Homo sapiens: one gene and its partner. The protein of the gene in region 2 purifies or fractionates together with the protein of the main gene of each other region. This does not show direct contact. Each region holds a gene or a part of one and is shown on either strand. Other genes may lie near its edges.

What was found.
Region 1: the proteins of PRKD3 (region 2) and SH3GLB2 purify together in Homo sapiens (affinity purification with mass spectrometry; one large-scale study listed by BioGRID and IntAct). This does not show direct contact.

Annotation. Positions count from the first base shown.
Region 1 is NC_000009.12:129,010,992-129,014,831, forward strand, and holds part of SH3GLB2 (endophilin-B2), read right to left. Parts: coding exon 3,780-3,840; intron 3,513-3,779; coding exon 3,420-3,512; intron 2,029-3,419; coding exon of another isoform or gene 2,017-2,028; intron 1,308-2,016; coding exon 1,245-1,307; intron 1-1,244.
Region 2 is NC_000002.12:37,254,475-37,259,696, forward strand, and holds part of PRKD3 (serine/threonine-protein kinase D3), read right to left. Parts: exon of another isoform or gene 5,208-5,222; coding exon 5,109-5,207; exon of another isoform or gene 3,842-5,108; intron 2,456-3,841; coding exon 2,188-2,455; intron 1,992-2,187; exon of another isoform or gene 1-1,991. UniProt on the Homo sapiens protein: Converts transient diacylglycerol (DAG) signals into prolonged physiological effects, downstream of PKC. Involved in resistance to oxidative stress.

The sequences.
Region 1 (3,840 bases), on a different chromosome or scaffold from region 2:
CCCCACCCCATCCTGACTGCTGGCTCAGGCTGCTGGGCTGGGCGGCAGAACTGTGTGACCCTGGGCCAGTCACTGAAGCTTTCTGTCCTCTGGCAGAGAAAGGTGGCCTCGTGCTTGAGTCACACTGGGACTCAATGGCAAAAGAAAAACAGGGCAGTCTCCACCCTCTAGGATGTTTCTCCTTCCACTGGGCACAGGGAGGAGGCGGGAAGTGGCATCCAGACCCTGAAGAAGAAAGACGCTGCCCGGCCACGACCAGGAGACCCAGCGCTCCTGCCGCTTCCGGAGATCTGACCCGAGACAACAGCCTGAAATAGGGAATGCGGACCCAGGCCAGTGTGCGTGGCCGGCCCGTGTGGCCCCCATGCTGCTTAGGAAGTCCCCGTCCAGGAGCACTGGAAGTTGCTGTGAGAGCCAACTAGGGTTGGCGGCCTGAGGGACAGTCACCCAGCCACAGAACGACGGCACGGAAGACATGAGGCAGCATGCTCACGAGAGAGGTGAGGGTCTCACCTCCAGGGGCGGGAAGGAGAGAAAGTGGGCAGACAAGGTGTAGCAGTGGTGACAAGCATGAGGGAGAGGTGTGGCCTAGTCCCCAAACTACATAGGAAACACCAGACTTCCCAAGAAAGCCTAAAAACCAACAGACACCATGACATGCGAAGCCTCCACGATCCTGTCCTCCCCACCTCCTGCCCCAACTCCCCTGGGGGCCCTGCCTAAGCCTCAGGACAAGACATGCCCTGCTCCAGGACCTCTGGGCCTTAAGCACAGCCTCAGGCCCTCCCGCCCCCCAGGCGCTCTCCAGGCCTACGACGCCATCCCTGCCTCCTGTCTTTAGGGGTCTGTGAACTCCAGAAAGGCACGGCCAGGCCTCCTCCTCTATCCTCAGGGCCTCCCCAGGGCCTGGCATTCAGAGACAGCAGGAGGTGGAGGGGCCCTGGGGATGGGACAGCTGCCGCCCTGAGTTCTCCACACTACTCAGTGTGGCTGGCCCTGCCGCCAGCTCCAGCGTTTTGCAGAGGGAAACAAGTCCAGCTCCATGGCCACAGGGCACCGGGGCCAGGCCGTGGACAGAGGTGGGGGCTGCTGCCCCTCCCCAGTGTCTCAGGACTGACCTGATCACATGGCAGTGCCCCCGCCTTACCCAAGCTGGCTTCTAGCTCCTGTGCAGTCAGAGGCAGTGGTGTGGGACGTGGGGAGAGAGGAGGACGAGGGGTGGGGTGGGGGTGGGGTGCGCTTACCGCGGAGGCGCTGGCCGAGAGAATGTAATTACGAGGTCTAGTCTCCTGAAAGTCAGGCACCGTCTGGCGGGGAACAGAGTTCATGTGGGGAGGGGGTCACCCTGGGCCAGGGCCAGGGTCGAGGTCAGGAGGCTACCCCAGAGTCTTGCACAAGGAGATGCCAAGAGGCCTGACCCCAGGGACGGGGATACAAACACAACACAAACCCCCTTCTCCCGACTCCAACCACCTGGAGATGAGGGGCCTAGGGACTTGGAGAGTCCAGACAAAGATCAAGTGGCTGCAGGCACTGGAGCTCAGGAGAGCAAATGCGGTGAGGAGATGGCCGAGGCTGCCTGAGCAAGTCACAGGCTGGGCTCTCCCCTGCCAGGGGCCACAGCCCCCTCCTCCCCAGACCAGTGGCACTCAGATGCCCCAGGGTCCCGCAAACACAGCCCACCCCCAACTGGGATGGCTTTTTCCATCCCAGAATCCGCACACCACATCTCTTGCTCCTGCATCAAGGGCCAGGCCCCTCCCGACAATGAAGGTGGACAGATGGATGCATGGGCAGACAGAGTGACAGGCGTCCAACATTTGCAAAAAGCTGACTCACAGGCCCCAACGCCTGGCATCCCCCCCTAAACCAGAGGCCCTGCACAGTAGAGGCTCTGGCGGGGAGACCAGCTGCTTGCAAAATGCCCCAAGGACGTGGGCTGGCCATGGCACCGTGGGTCCACGGGCAAGATGGGCAGACCGGAAGCAGCACAGCGCGTGGGACAGGTATACTCACATCTCCCTCACACTGAGCCAAGTTACCCAAAGCAGGACGGAAAGGAACAAAAACAAAGAGTTAGTGAGTCCACAGCGCAGGCAGGAGCAGGCCCCCCAGGCCCCAGTGGGAGGGGACACCAGGCGGTCGGGCGGAGGGAGGCACCACAGCCTGCCCTCCTGAAGAGTCCTAACGTGTGCGTGCTTATGGGGACAGAGCTGTGGAGCTTGAGTCCTCTGGAATGCTGTTCCTGGGGCTGCCCAAGTCCTAGCTCTGGAAAGGTGGCCTGGCCCAACCCCAGGATGTGAGGTTGTCCAGGCCCACCAGGTGAGGGAGAGGCCACACCACTGCAATGACAGGAAAGGCTCCTCTGGCCTGGCTGATGGAGAGAGTGTGTTCTGGCTGAGTTACTCCAGAGACGGTGTCTGGCCCGAAGTGACGGGGGAGACTGTCCTGTTCAGGTGCCTTAGAAGAGGTCATCCCAATAGGCACAGGTCACCCTAGCCAACCCCAAGATTGAAACAACTACACCCCTGCCTCTGATCTAGACCCCACACACTTGAGTGACCTGAGACGGTTCTCGCCAGGGGCAGTGCTGGCTCTGGGGCCACACTATGGGAGGGGAACGCAAGGTGCATGGGCAGCTGTGAGCCCAGGCTAGGCCTGGCCTCCCTCGGCTAATCAGCTGGCAGCCACAGGTAGCCATCTCCCTAGTAGGCCTGGGCCTGGGAGTTCCCTCTGCAAGGTATGAGGCAGCCTTTAGGCCTGGCAGCCCTGAGCAACCTCTTGTGCCAGGAGGGTGTTCACCCTTGGGCCCAGCTCCTCCAATCCTGGCCTCGCCCTGGGCACACTGTCCCAGGCTGCGTCCCATTGACCCAGCCAGGCTGAACAGGCCTCAGTGAGCTGGGAGTGAAGGGGGCGCCAGATGGCCCAGGCCCTATCCAATCTCATGGGACCCCTCGGACACGGCCCTGAGCAAGCGGGCGGTCCAGCTCCCAGGTTTTCCACACCATCGTGGGGGCGCCTGAGCACAGGGACCCTCGGCCTGACGTTCAAGCAGCAAGTAGTAGAGTTAGTAAGAAGGTGCCATGCCCGGGCAGAGCCGGGGACAGAGCCGAGCATCTAGGAGGGCAGGGCAGGGCATGCAGGAGACTCCAGCTGCCTGGCGGGGTGGTGCACCCAGCTGGGGGCACTGCTGGTCCGCCCACACCGTAGATATCTCCCTGGGAACCAGAGCTCGGGGGCCACCAAGGCTCCCTTGAGGGCAGGGACAGAGAGGCTCAGCCCAGCAGCCCCCAGCCAGGCATCTCCAGCCAGGGAGAGGGGAGAGAGGTCATGCCAAATACCAGGTCCCTTCATGCCACCACCCCTTGGCTCCAGCCAGAGCCTGGGCCAGGAGGCCAGCGGGGAGCGGGGACACCTACCGTGGCTTTGGCTTCTGCAGCCTTGGCCTTCTTCAGCCTCGCTTTGCAGGCATCCAAGTCCAGACGCCGGTTTTGGAGGAGCCGCCTCTCCTTCTACAGGGCAGGGCATGGGGACAGTGAGACCCTGGGCTGCCCTGGGAGACCCTGAGCCATGCATGGCAAGATTGGTGCCGGGGACGATCAAGTCAAGATAGGGAAACTGAGGCCCAGAGATAGGAGGTCACTCAGTCCAAAGGAGCCCTCTCTGGGGAGGCCTCAGGAGTTTTGTAGCCCCAGCACTGGAAGAGAGCCTGTACTCAAAGGCTCTGAGGAGGGAACTGCCATGGTTACCAGGAAGCGGAATAGTCCCAGGGCCCTCACCGAGATGGTCTTCCAGTCCCCCTCCAGGAAGTTGCGCAAGGGTGTGAGGAAGCTGATGGAG
Region 2 (5,222 bases):
TCAAATTTTCATTGCCTTTATAAGGCAGTATAGAGTACAGGTTAAAGTATATACTCTGGAACCTGACTGCCTGGGCTGAAGTCTGGTTCTGCCACCTACTAGCTGTGTGATACTGGGTCAGTTACTAAATTATATTATGCCTCAGTTTCCTCATGAAGTTGCTGACATATGTTAAGGGCTTAGAACAGTGCTTAGCACATAAGTGCTAAGTATTAACTATTATTATTTGAAGATGAATGAAACAGACTCTCTGATCCTCCCCACCCCGCTCCAATGCTAGAGAGCACTCTAGTCCCTGACTTGGTCTGGAAAGGCACTGCCTTGCCTCTATATATGGTCACATTGAGGTGGTAGCTTAACTACCAAAAGTTTACACTTTTAACAAATAGGTTTCAGGGTGTTTTAGTGTACATGGTGAGTTCTTGGTATATATATTTTATTCACTTATTTGGAGAATGATCAATTGCAAAACCAAGGCAACCAATAACTACATACTAACTACAGCCCTATATAATGGTACATTTGAAATATTGGTAACAAAAGGCTAGACCCAGACACGAACCAAATGGAAAGACTTGTACCATCCTAGTTCTATTTCTTGTCTCTATACTACCAAACTAGCAAAGTGATTCTGATAGAAGAGGTCTACAGAACACACTGCCTCAGGAGGTCTGAGATAACACTGGTTAACATCAAAAAACATCTCTTATGAGCTTCTTCAATTAGCTTTCTTCATTACCAAGCAAACCTGCTACTGTCTTCACATGTTGTTCTTAAACTTTTCCCAGTTTGATGGAATATTAGTTAATCCTATGATTAGGCCTAGTACTTTTGGAAAAACAAAAAAGATCTACCTATTACATGGGCTGGTTAAATCCAGATGGGGGTATTCCCCAGCACTGGTTCTATTAACTTCTATGGGGCAGTTAAATAATGTTTTAAGTAGTGTACTTGTCCTTCCTATCAGTATCAGCAGACTAAAGAGGGCCAGCCAACTTATTCTTGACGGGTACAGAACCAGGAGTTGCAAATTCAAAAGCCTTCACTAGGCAGGAAAAAGAGATGTATGCAGCTTCCCAGCAGAGGTCCACAGGAGAGAGGAAAACAAACTGCAGTGTGTCTGGTGATTATAAAGTTCATTCTAGGTATAAGGAACCGGAGCTAGGTATTCATTCACGGAGCTCACAGTCTTGTTCTGAAGATTAGAAAAGTCAATTATGAAAAGAATGAATACTTAAGAAAAAAATGGGGCTGGGTGCAGTGGCTCATGCCTGTAATCCCAGCACTTTGGGAGGTCAAGTTGGGAAGATCAATTGAGTGCAAGAGTTTGACACCAGCCTGGGCAACATAGTGGGACCCCATCTCTACAAAAAATTTAAAAATTAGCCAGGTGTGGGTGGCCCATGGTGCATACCCATCATCCCACCTAGTCAGGAGGCTGAGGTGGGAGGATCACTTGAGCCCAGGAAGTCGAGGCTGCAGTGAGCTGTGTTTGTGCACACTTCAGCCTGGGTGACAGAGGGAGACCCCGTCTCAATAAAAATAAAAAAAGATAATAAAAAAGCCCAAATGTTTTTTAGCCTAAGTAAATTCTGCAGTGTAGAGGAGTAGTCAGGGAACTTTATAGATGAGCCACAAATTAAGGGGTCCTCGAATTTTAATAGGAAGGATTGTAGACAAGGGAAAAACAGTCCCAAGCAAATTGCAGAAAACAGTTCAGAAGAGTAAACAACTAGGTTTGTGTAGGGAGTAGTGGGAGATGAGGCTAGAAGGTAAGCATGGACCATATCACAGATAACTATGCCTGTAAGGTGGTTAAAGAGAAGTGTTTGGGAGCACCATAAATGAAAGTAATGTTTCCTGAAGATAGATTTGGCAGTAGTGACTAGGAAGGACCAGAAAAGAGTTTAACAGGTAAGACAGTTAAAAAGATATTTTAGTGGTTTGACAATGAGGCCACTGGGGCCTATGTAAGTGCTATGCCTGGGAACTATACAGAAGACACAGATAAAAGTATAAAAAGAAGAGTGCTCAAAAAACTGGTAACTAGTTGAATTTGGAAGATGAATGGGAGATGTACTAAAAAGATAAGTTGCAAGAGACAGACTGATTTGGGATGAGAAAGATGTTTAGGCTTAAAACACATAGCCAAAATTTTTTTTTTTTTTTTTTTTTTTTTTTTTTTACCTTCACCAGAAATTTCTCTCCATGGATTTGGTGGGTACATAAATGCAGCATTTTGGATTTGGTCATTTATATCTTCATCCTCATTAAAAGGAAATGTGCCACTGAGGCTCACATAGATGATAACTCCCACTGACCACATATCTAGGGAACGGTTGTAACCTTTGCTCCGGAGAACTTCAGGGGCTAAGTATGCTGGAGTTCCTACCACAGATCTCCTGAATGACTTTTCACCAATGATGCGTGCAAATCCAAAGTCACACAGCTTCACCTGGAAATTGAAGGATGATGTTAATTTTGTATTATAGTGTTATATATGTAACTACCTGTCCCTAAATATAACACTGTATGTATCATTTCAACATACTTGCCAGCTCTACTGATTATGAATATTAATCACAGATAAGGAAATTGTAAAATATCCTTTTCTCAAAAGGCAGACACATTTATAGCCCTGTGATCCTGACTGACACAGTATGAAGAGCTTTCCTAGTACATATTTCAAAAGTTCTAGCTTCCAGAATACCAAATACCAGACTGGTGTTATAAGTGTTCTGATTTCTTATGAAATAGAGTATGCTGCTTTCTATCATTTGTCTTGTAAGATCACTCTTCCATCATCTGTGAGCAGGAATTGTTTCATTTCTGAATCCTTAGTGGCCTCACAGTGCCTGGACACATAAAGGTACTCAATGTTTGCTGAAGGAAAAATAAGTTACAGTATTAGCCAGGTGTGGTGGCTCACACCTGTAATCCCAGCACTTTGGGAGGCCGAGGCGGGCGGATCACGAGGTCAGGAGATTGAGACCATCCTGGCTAATGCGGTGAAACCCCGTCTCTACTGAAGATACAAAAAAATTAGCCTGGCGTGGTGGCGGGTGCCTGTAGTCCCAGCTACTTGGGAGGCTGAAGCAGGAGAATGGCGTGAACCCAGGAGGCAGAGCTTGCAGTGAGTCGAGATTACGCCGCTGCAATCCAGCCTGGGCGACAGAGTGAAGACTCTGTCTCAAAAGAAAAAAAAAAAAAAAAAAAAAAAGTTACAGTATTTAAAAACATCCCTTGTTTTGCTTAATCCTAGAATCTCTTTTCCTAAGGATGTTATAAACTGGCAAGTAAATAAAACTGAGGTGTATTAAAGGTAATTTTAAATGGGGACACCAGTGGAATAATGCTGGAGACTGCCCCAGTGAGTAACAGCAACACTTTTCTATCACTGTGGAACAAATTATTTCTAGTTAGATGTTTAGATTTGAAAACAGTTATATGTAAAGGGAGCCATAGTCACTACCACATCCTCTCAAAAGAGAGTTCTAGAAGTTGATGAGCTTGGCAGAACTCAGAACACTTATCTTGCTGCCCAGATTTTTCTAGAGGCTCAAATCTGGGGGATTAATGACCACATCCATGCTGAACAAGCAAATGCCAGGTACTTTCTGGAGGAAATGCTCTGACTTAAAAAATGTCTTTAGCAAAAGCATTAATATAAATTGAGAGGAAAAAGATTTAAGCTGTAGAAAACAGTGGTACAAACAGTGCCTAGAAAACGAAGTGAAGTTATCAAATGCTGCTATTTCTGGGATGGTGGACTCTGACACATATTTTTATGAATGATATTTGCTCAAAATCATTACTGAATCTGGCTGCTTCTCGATTTCAGTGTCTTTGAAGAGTACGAATACTGAGCCTGAAGAAATACAAACTCTTTTTTTGTTGTTAAATGCCAGATTTCAGCTAACATCTTGATAAGGTAAAGATGACTTGGAAGTTTGGCAACTGATTAAAGAAGTGGAGCCATGGCTAACACTTGAGCATAAAAAGCGTATCAAGTAAATCACATTATTTTCCCTTTGCTTCTCATTGGAACACTGTGGATCACTAAAATAGAGGTCAGAAAGTGGGAGTTTTAATGTTACCAGTAGGAGTGTGCATCTTTTGTCTACTATTTTGAAGATCAAATGAGATAATATATGGAAGCAGTTTATTTAAAACATTGCACCAACTATCAGGCAACCCTTTCGACCTCAAAATGATAGGGAATCACTTTTAACCACATAAACATAAAAAGAATATGATTACTACTTTAAAAGCTGAACGATTTTTAATATATCTTTTTATTTGAAAAGACAATTTGAGTTATATTTACCAAGTGAAAACACCTATCTGTTGTCCTTAGTCTTGCCATTTGTCTAAATGTACATGTTTCAAATGTATATAAACAATAGTTTGGCAACAGATATTTGAGCTGATCGGAGGAATCATCCTTGCCAATTATGGAAAATGGCTGCAGGGTACCACCACCACCACTTATTTCTCAGGATGGTTGTTTCAGAATTTGGGTTATGATCCATTTCATAGGTCATGCAATAAATTTAGTGGATCAAGATGAACACTTGGAAAAAAAAAAAACTCAACTGAATTAAGAAAAATCAGAGAGTGCTACATGTAGCCAGGACACAGAAGCACGATGCCATTGTGTGTATGTGTGGTGATGAGAAATGTTATTTTATGTAGGTTGTTTGAATACAATACTCTACATAGAAAAAGGAGGTGGCTGCCTGCCTCAACCAAAATCTATCTCCCATTTCCAGTAACACCCCATTTGTTTTATTTATGAGGTATTTATCCTAAGTACCATGCACCAACCAAGGTTGATACTTGCTCACTTCGTTCCCAGCCCCTGGGGAGAGGTGAATTGCAGAATCTATGTGCAGTTAAATCTTAAAAAATCTTGAATATAAACAGTATAACTAATAACATCTGAATTCATTTAGTTATTAATCCTCACTGGTAGTTACAGGCTAAAAACTATTTTTGTAAGGTGGTATGCATTTTTAACCAACAGTACTTAGTACACTGCCTTTTATTATGTGGGTGCTTTGAAAATGTTGCCAGAATCATTTAAAAGGTTCTGGAGAATATCTCACCTGAGGAAATGGCTCTGCTGATGCAAGCAGCACATTTTCTGGCTTTAAATCACAGTGCACAATATTCTTAAAATGCAGATTCCTCAAAGCAACAAGTATCTGTTATGAAAAAAG